Homo sapiens: one gene and its partner. The protein of the gene in region 1 purifies or fractionates together with the protein of each later gene. This does not show direct contact. Each region holds a gene or a part of one and is shown in the gene's direction. Other genes may lie near its edges.

The links.
Region 2: the proteins of GDA (region 1) and LARS1 fractionate together in Homo sapiens (co-fractionation; one large-scale study listed by BioGRID). This does not show direct contact.

Annotation. Positions count from the first base shown.
Region 1 is NC_000009.12:72,152,440-72,155,939, forward strand, and holds part of GDA (guanine deaminase), read left to right. Parts: intron 1-3,500. UniProt on the Homo sapiens protein: Catalyzes the hydrolytic deamination of guanine, producing xanthine and ammonia.
Region 2 is NC_000005.10:146,176,151-146,179,650, reverse strand, and holds part of LARS1 (leucine--tRNA ligase, cytoplasmic), read left to right. Parts: intron 1-1,985; coding exon 1,986-2,104; intron 2,105-3,500. UniProt on the Homo sapiens protein: Aminoacyl-tRNA synthetase that catalyzes the specific attachment of leucine to its cognate tRNA (tRNA(Leu)).

The DNA of each region.
Region 1 (3,500 bases):
AGCATGTAGCTTTTAAGAATATAGACTCTAATGATTGCCATTCTAACTGGTGTGAGCTGATATCTCATTGTGGTTTTGATTTGCATTTCTCTGATGGCCAGTGATGATGAGCATTTTTTCATGTGTCTTTTGGCTACATAAATGTCTTCTTTTGAGAAGTGTCTGTTCATATCCTTTGCCCACTTTTTGATGGGGTTGTTTGTTTTTTTCTTGTAAATTTGTTTGAGTTCATTGTGGATTCTTGATATTAGCCCTTTGTCAGATGAGTAGGTTGTGAAAATTTTCTCCCATTTTGTAGGTTGCCTGTTCACTCTGATGGTAGTTTCTTTTGCTGTGCAGAAGCTCTTTAGTTTAATTAGATCCCATTTGTCAATTTTGGCTTTTGTTGCCATGGCTTTTGGTGTTTTAGACATGAAGTCCTTGCCCATGCCTATGTCCTGAATGGTAATGCCTAGGTTTTCTTCTAGGGTTTTTATGGTTTTAGGTCTAACGTTTAAGTCTTTAATCCATCTTGAATTAATTTTTGCATAAGGTGTAAGGAAGGGATCCAGTTTCAGCTTTCTACATATGGCTAGCCAGTTTTCCTAGCACCATTTATTAAATAGGGAATCCTTTCCCCATTGCTTGTTTTTCTCAGGTTTGTCAAAGATCAGATAGTTGTAGATAGGCGGCATTATTTCTGAGGGCTCTGTTCTGTTCCATTGATGTATATCTCTGTTTTGGTACCAGTACCATGCTGTTTTGGTTACTGTAGCCTTGTAGTATAGTTTGAAGTCAGGTAGCGTGATGCCTCCAGCTTTGTTCTTTTGGCTTAGGATTGACTTGGTGATGCGGGCTCTTTTTTGGTTCCATATGAACTTTAAAGTAGTTTTTTCCAATTCTGTGAAGAAAGTCATTGGTAGCTTGATGGGGAGAAATAGGAATACTTTTACACTGTTGGTGGGACTGTAAACTAGTTCAACCATTGTGGAAGTCAGTGTGGCGATTCCTCAGGGATCTAGAACTAGAAATACCATTTGACCCAGCCATCCCATTACTGGGTATATACCCAAAGGACTATAAATCATGCTGCTATAAAGACACATGCACACGTATGTTTATTGTGGCACTATTCACAATAGCAAAGACTTGGAACCAACCCAAATGTCCATCAATGATAGACTGGATTAAGAAAATGTGGCACATATACACCATGGAATACTATGCAGCCATAAAAAATGATGAGTTCATGTCCTTTGTAGGGACATGGATGAAATTGGAAACTGTCGCAAGGACAAAAAACCAAACACTGCATGTTCTCACTCATAGATGGAAATTGAACAATGAGAACACATGGACACAGGAAGGGGAACATCATACTCTGGGGACTGTTGTGGGGTGGGGGGAGGGGGGAGGGATAGCATTAGGAGATATACCTAATGCTAAATGACGAGTTAATGGGTGCAGCACACCAGCATGGCACATGTATACATATGTAACTAACCTGCACATTGTGCACATGTACCCTAAAACTTAAAGTATAATAAAAAAAAAATATAGACTCTAACATGTTTAATTCATTTGCAAATATTTAATCTTGAGGTAATGCATGCTCAAATATTACTAAGTTGCCTGATTCTTCCCACATACATCAGGGTCAGGTTGACAGTAAAGATGCATAAACATGCCTTGGGCCTTTTAATGCACACTTACCCAGAAACAAGAGTGAGGAAGAGATTCATTTTGAGGTTGTGTCCTGGGGTGGCAGGAGCAAGTCCAATGGAGGAATAGAGACTTGGGTTCAGGTCAGAGTCTCTACCACTTACCTGTGCTGAGACCACAGGTGAGACCTAACCTGCCTGAGCCTCCGTTTCCTCATTTGTAGAGTCAGATTTCCTTTTGCTATTTATTAAATGAGATAATGTATGAAAATGCCTGGCACTTAGTGGATACTTAACATGTACCATGTTCATTCTATTCCCTTTGCCTCCTAGCAAATCCTTAACCTCTTGCTCACTGTGATATTTTGCATGTTTTCACATGGTGACATGCCAAGTGGTAGAGAAGGAAGCCACGGCCTGTGATGAACTGTATGGGGTGGTCACAGAACCTTAGCTTTTTATTCTCACTGCTTATGTCATTGATCCCCTGGGACCCAAAGATGCACCCTGGAAGAAAGATCAAGAAGCATTTGGTGCTAGATTCACTAGCAAGCTATCTTTAGTATCTCTTTTAGACTTGACAATGTCATTATTTCCACTAACAGATGAGGAAGTTGAGACTTGAGAAGTCATGCATTCAGATACGGTGGTGGTGTAGCTGGATTTTGAATTAGTATGGGGCAAAGGCCATGTTCTCTTTACTGTCGCTGACTGCTTCTCTAGGGCACAGTCCTGGACCTCAAAGAATCTGCACTTTGGCACGGGAGCTAAGACTTGTAGCTGTAATAAAAGTGACTCATTCCTGAGCCAAACACTGGGGTTTTCACCGGAGATAAATTGATGAACAAAGTATGCAAATACTGCCCTGCCCTCTTGAAACTGATGATCTAGTAATAAATTAACAGAATCTGCCATGACCTATCAGAACTTGAACTAGTTAGGGGAAGGCTTTCCCTAGCGTGAAGTGACATCAAACTTGCGATGTGAACAATGAGAAGTTAAGTAGGTATATTAGTCAATTTTCACATTGGTGACAAAAACAACCTGAGACTGGGAAGAAAAAGAGGTTTAATTGGACTTACAGTTCCACATGACTGGGGAGCCTCAGAATCATGGCAGGAGGTGAAAGACACTTCTTACATGGCGGCAGCAAGAGAGAATGAGGAAGATGAAAAAGCGGAAACTCCTGATAAACCCATCAGATCTCGTGAGACTTATTCACTACCATGAGAACAGTATGGGGGAAACTGCCCCCATGATTCAAGTTATCGCCCACTGGGTTCCTCCCACAACATGTGGGAATTAGGGGAGTACAATTCAAGATGAGATTTGGATGGAGGCACATCCAAACCATACCAATAGGTAAGGTGGACAGCATTGGAAGTAAAGAAGAGCCTTCTAGGTTGAGAGAACTGCCTGTGACTGCCTGTGCAAAGGTCCTGGGGTAGGAAGGAATGAAACAGTCAAGGTAGTCAGAGTCCAAAGGTTGAGGAGAAGGCTAACACAGGATAAGGCAGGACAGGTAGGCAGGGCTATGTTATGGAGGGCATCGGGGATGGTGGGATTGTGTCATGATTATATTTTGTGGTTATAAAGGTCTAACTTCAGGATAAATGCATTGAAGAGAAGTTGAGTGCAGGCAAGGAGGTCAGATAGGAGCCTGTTGCAGTATTTAGGTAAAATGGAATGTGGTTTAGATGAGAGAGGCAGTGTAGTTATCAACTGAGATATGAACTCCTAAGAGTACCTCTATCACTTATTACCTATGTGAATTTGATCAAGTTCCTTACCATTTGTATCTCCAAATTTCTTTATGCATAAAATAATTACTATGGTCTACCTAATAGGGTTGTTGAAAGG
Region 2 (3,500 bases), on another chromosome or scaffold:
CTCCAGCCTGGGTGGCAGAGGGAGACCCTCTCTCTCTCACACAGACACACACACATAAATACAGTGAAATTTCATATTACCCATGACCGTAGGGTAGGAGATATGACTAGGCTTCATGAGGCCCTACATACTTTTGCCTTTGTGGGTGGGTCCTTTCCTCTGTAAAAATATTAGAAATTATATTTTACAGACCGGGCTGGGTGGCTCATGCCTGTAATCACAGCACTTTGGGAGGCTGAGACGGGTGGACCACCTGAGGTCAGGAGTTTGAGGCCAGCCTGGCCAACATGGTGAAACCTCGTCTCTACTAAAAATACAAAAATTAGCCAGGTATGGTGGCACGCACCTGTAATCCCAGCTGCTCGGGAGGCTGAGGCAGGAGAATTGCTTGAACCCCAGAGATGGAGGTTTCAGTGAGCTGAGATTGGTCTTGCTGTGTTGCCTAGGCTGGAGTGCAGTGGCTCCATCTTGGCTCACTGCAACCACCGCCTCTTGGGTTCAGGTAATTCTCCTGTCTTTGCCTCCCGAGTAGCTGAGATTATAGGCGCATGCCAACGCATCCGGCTAATTTTTGTATTTTTAGTAGAAATGGGGTTTCGCCATATTGGCCAGGCTGGTCTTGAACTCGTAGCCTCAGGTGATCCACCTGCCTCGGCCTCTCAAAGTGCTGGGATTACAGGCATGAGCCACCAAACCTGGCCAAAAAAATTGTTTTTCTTTTAAAGAGGAGGTCTTTCTATGTTGCCTAGGCTGGTCTCAAACTCCTGGCCTCAAATAATCCTCCCTCCTCAGCCTCCCAAAGTGTTGGGATTGTAGACATGAGGCACTACATCCAGCCAAGTTACTTATTAAGAAGAGGTTTTGAAGTGAGAGGGGGCAGTGGCGTTGATAGTCTAAATGAAGGTGGTTAGTAGCAGGAATGGAAAGGGATGAACAGTTGTGCAGGCTTATTATTTCTTAGAAAAGAAAATACCTTATACAATCACTGTTTTATGGAAACTTGAAAAGAGTCCAGGTATTTTTTTTTTTTTGGTGGGGGATGGAGTTTCGCTCTTGTTGCCCAGGCTGGAGTGCAATGGTGCAATCTTGGCTCACTGCAACTTCCACCTCCCAGGTTCAAGCGATTCTCCTGCCTCAGCCTCCCAAGTAGCTGGGATTACAGATGCGTGCCACCTTGCCTAGCTAATTTTTGTATTTTTAGTAGAGATGGGGTTTCACCACGTTGGCCAGGCTTGTCTCTAACTCCTGACCTCAGGTGATCCTCTCACCTCGGCCTCCCAAAGTGCTGGGATTACAGGCGTGAGCCACCGTGTCCAGCCTGTTTTATTTAAATTTCATATGAACAGTTCTTTAACAATTTTGGAGAGAAGTTCTCTATCAGTATCTTTGATATTCATGTATTTTAATTAAATAGAAACATTTGATGACAGTGTTACATTGTAGTATATAATTTTAAAAAAGCATATCAAAGCCTTTTACATATTTCAGTAATTGTTCAACCATTTCTTTGAGGTTTGAGGTACACAGGTCATGATAATCCTAATTTTTTTTTTCTGGCGGAGTCTTGCTGTGTCACCCAAGCTGGAGTGCAATGGCATGATCTCGGCTCACTGCAGCCTCCGCCTCCCTGGTTCAAGCGATTCTCCTGCCTCAGCCTCCTGAGTTGCTGAGATTACAGGTACCCGCCACCACGCCCAGCTAATTTTTGTATTTTAGTAGAGATGGGTTTCGCCCTGTTGGCCAGGCTGATCTCGAACTCCTGACCTCAAGCAATCCACCCGCCTCGGCCTCCCAAAGTGCTGGGATTACACGCATGAGCCACCGCGCCTGGCTGATAACCCTAATTTTTAATGTTCATTTAAATTTCAAGATAACCATGGAAAAATCAGTCTTTATCAGTGAGCAGCTCAGTTCTGTGAACCCAATTCTTTTTTAAAGCAAGCGTGCTGAAATACAGAGTGGATTATTCTCTTTGTGTCCAATAGGAAAGAAAAGGAACAGCCAAAGTGGACTTTTTGAAGAAGATTGAGAAAGAAATCCAACAGAAATGGGATACTGAGAGAGTGTTTGAGGTCAATGCATCTAATTTAGAGAAACAGACCAGGTGAGTAATAGTTTGTGAAGTTCTGCACATTGTATTTCTATATATATATATATATATATATATTTTTTTTTTTTTTTTTTTGAGACGGAGTCTTGCTCTGTCGCCCAGGCTGGAGTGCAGTGGCGCAATCTCGGCTCACTGCAAGCTCCGCCTCCCAGGTTCATGCCATTCTCCTGCCTCAGCCTCCCGAGCAGCTGGGACTACAGGCACCCACCACCATGCCCAGCTAATTTTTTGTATTTTTAGTAGAGATGATGTTTCACTGTGTTAGCCAGGGTGGTCTCGATCTTCTGACCTCGTGATCCACCCGCCTCGGCCTCCCAAAGTCCTGGGATTACAGGCGTGAGCCACCACGCCCGGCCCTGTGCATTGTATTTCTAAAACCGTTGGCTTTATAGTACAGAAACAGCTTGGTGGAACCCATAAGGTAGATTGTATTTATAATGCCTGAAACAGGGTGAAGGAGGTGACTTTCACTTTCTGCATATGAATTAGGATCTTTTTTCTTATGGGGTTTGTAAAGATTTTTTTTTCTAAATAAAGTTTGTTTTGTTTTGTTTTAAAGACTACAGTATTTTAAATATTTAGACAAAGAAGGATGTTTTGAGATTTTTTTCTTTGCTGACTGATAAAACGAAATTATTCTATTAGACTCATAGACGATTATTATCTCCAAAGACAGAAAATGTAAATTTTTATGTTTTTTCTTTACAAGTAAACCTAATGCTTATAGAAGTATAAATGTTGAAGATATTATTTCATAAATACTGCATTGCCTTGATACTAAAATAATACTGATTTAAAGACAAACGTAGATCATGACATGATATTTGGGAAAAACAAAAACAAAATAACTCCCCCAAACATTGCCTTAATAAATGTATGCATCAATTATAAGATATATCCCAGATTCATATATGTTGAGATGTAAGAAAATGTGCTTTTTCAGATTGAAGAAATACGGTTATAGTAACAACAATAATAGTAAGTTAACATTGAACACTTACTGTGTGCTAGCAAATGTGCTAGCAAATTTTTTTACATGTATACTCTCATTTAATCTTCTTTTTCTTTCTTTCTTTTTTTTTTTTTTTTTTTGAGACAGTCTTGCTCTGTCATCAGGCTGGAGTGCAGTGGCGCCATCTCGGCTCACTGCAACCCCCAACTCCCTGGTTAAAGCGATTCTCCTGCCTCAGCCTCCTTAGTAGCTGGGATTACAGGCATGTGCCACCACGCCCAGCTAATTTTTGTATTTTTAGTAGAGACGGGGTTTTACCATGTTGGCCAGGATGGTCTCGATTTCCTGACCTCGTGATCCGCCCACCTCAGCCTCCCAAAGTGCCGGGATTACAGGCATAAGCCACCGTGCCTAGCCTTTTTCTTTCTTTCTTTTTTT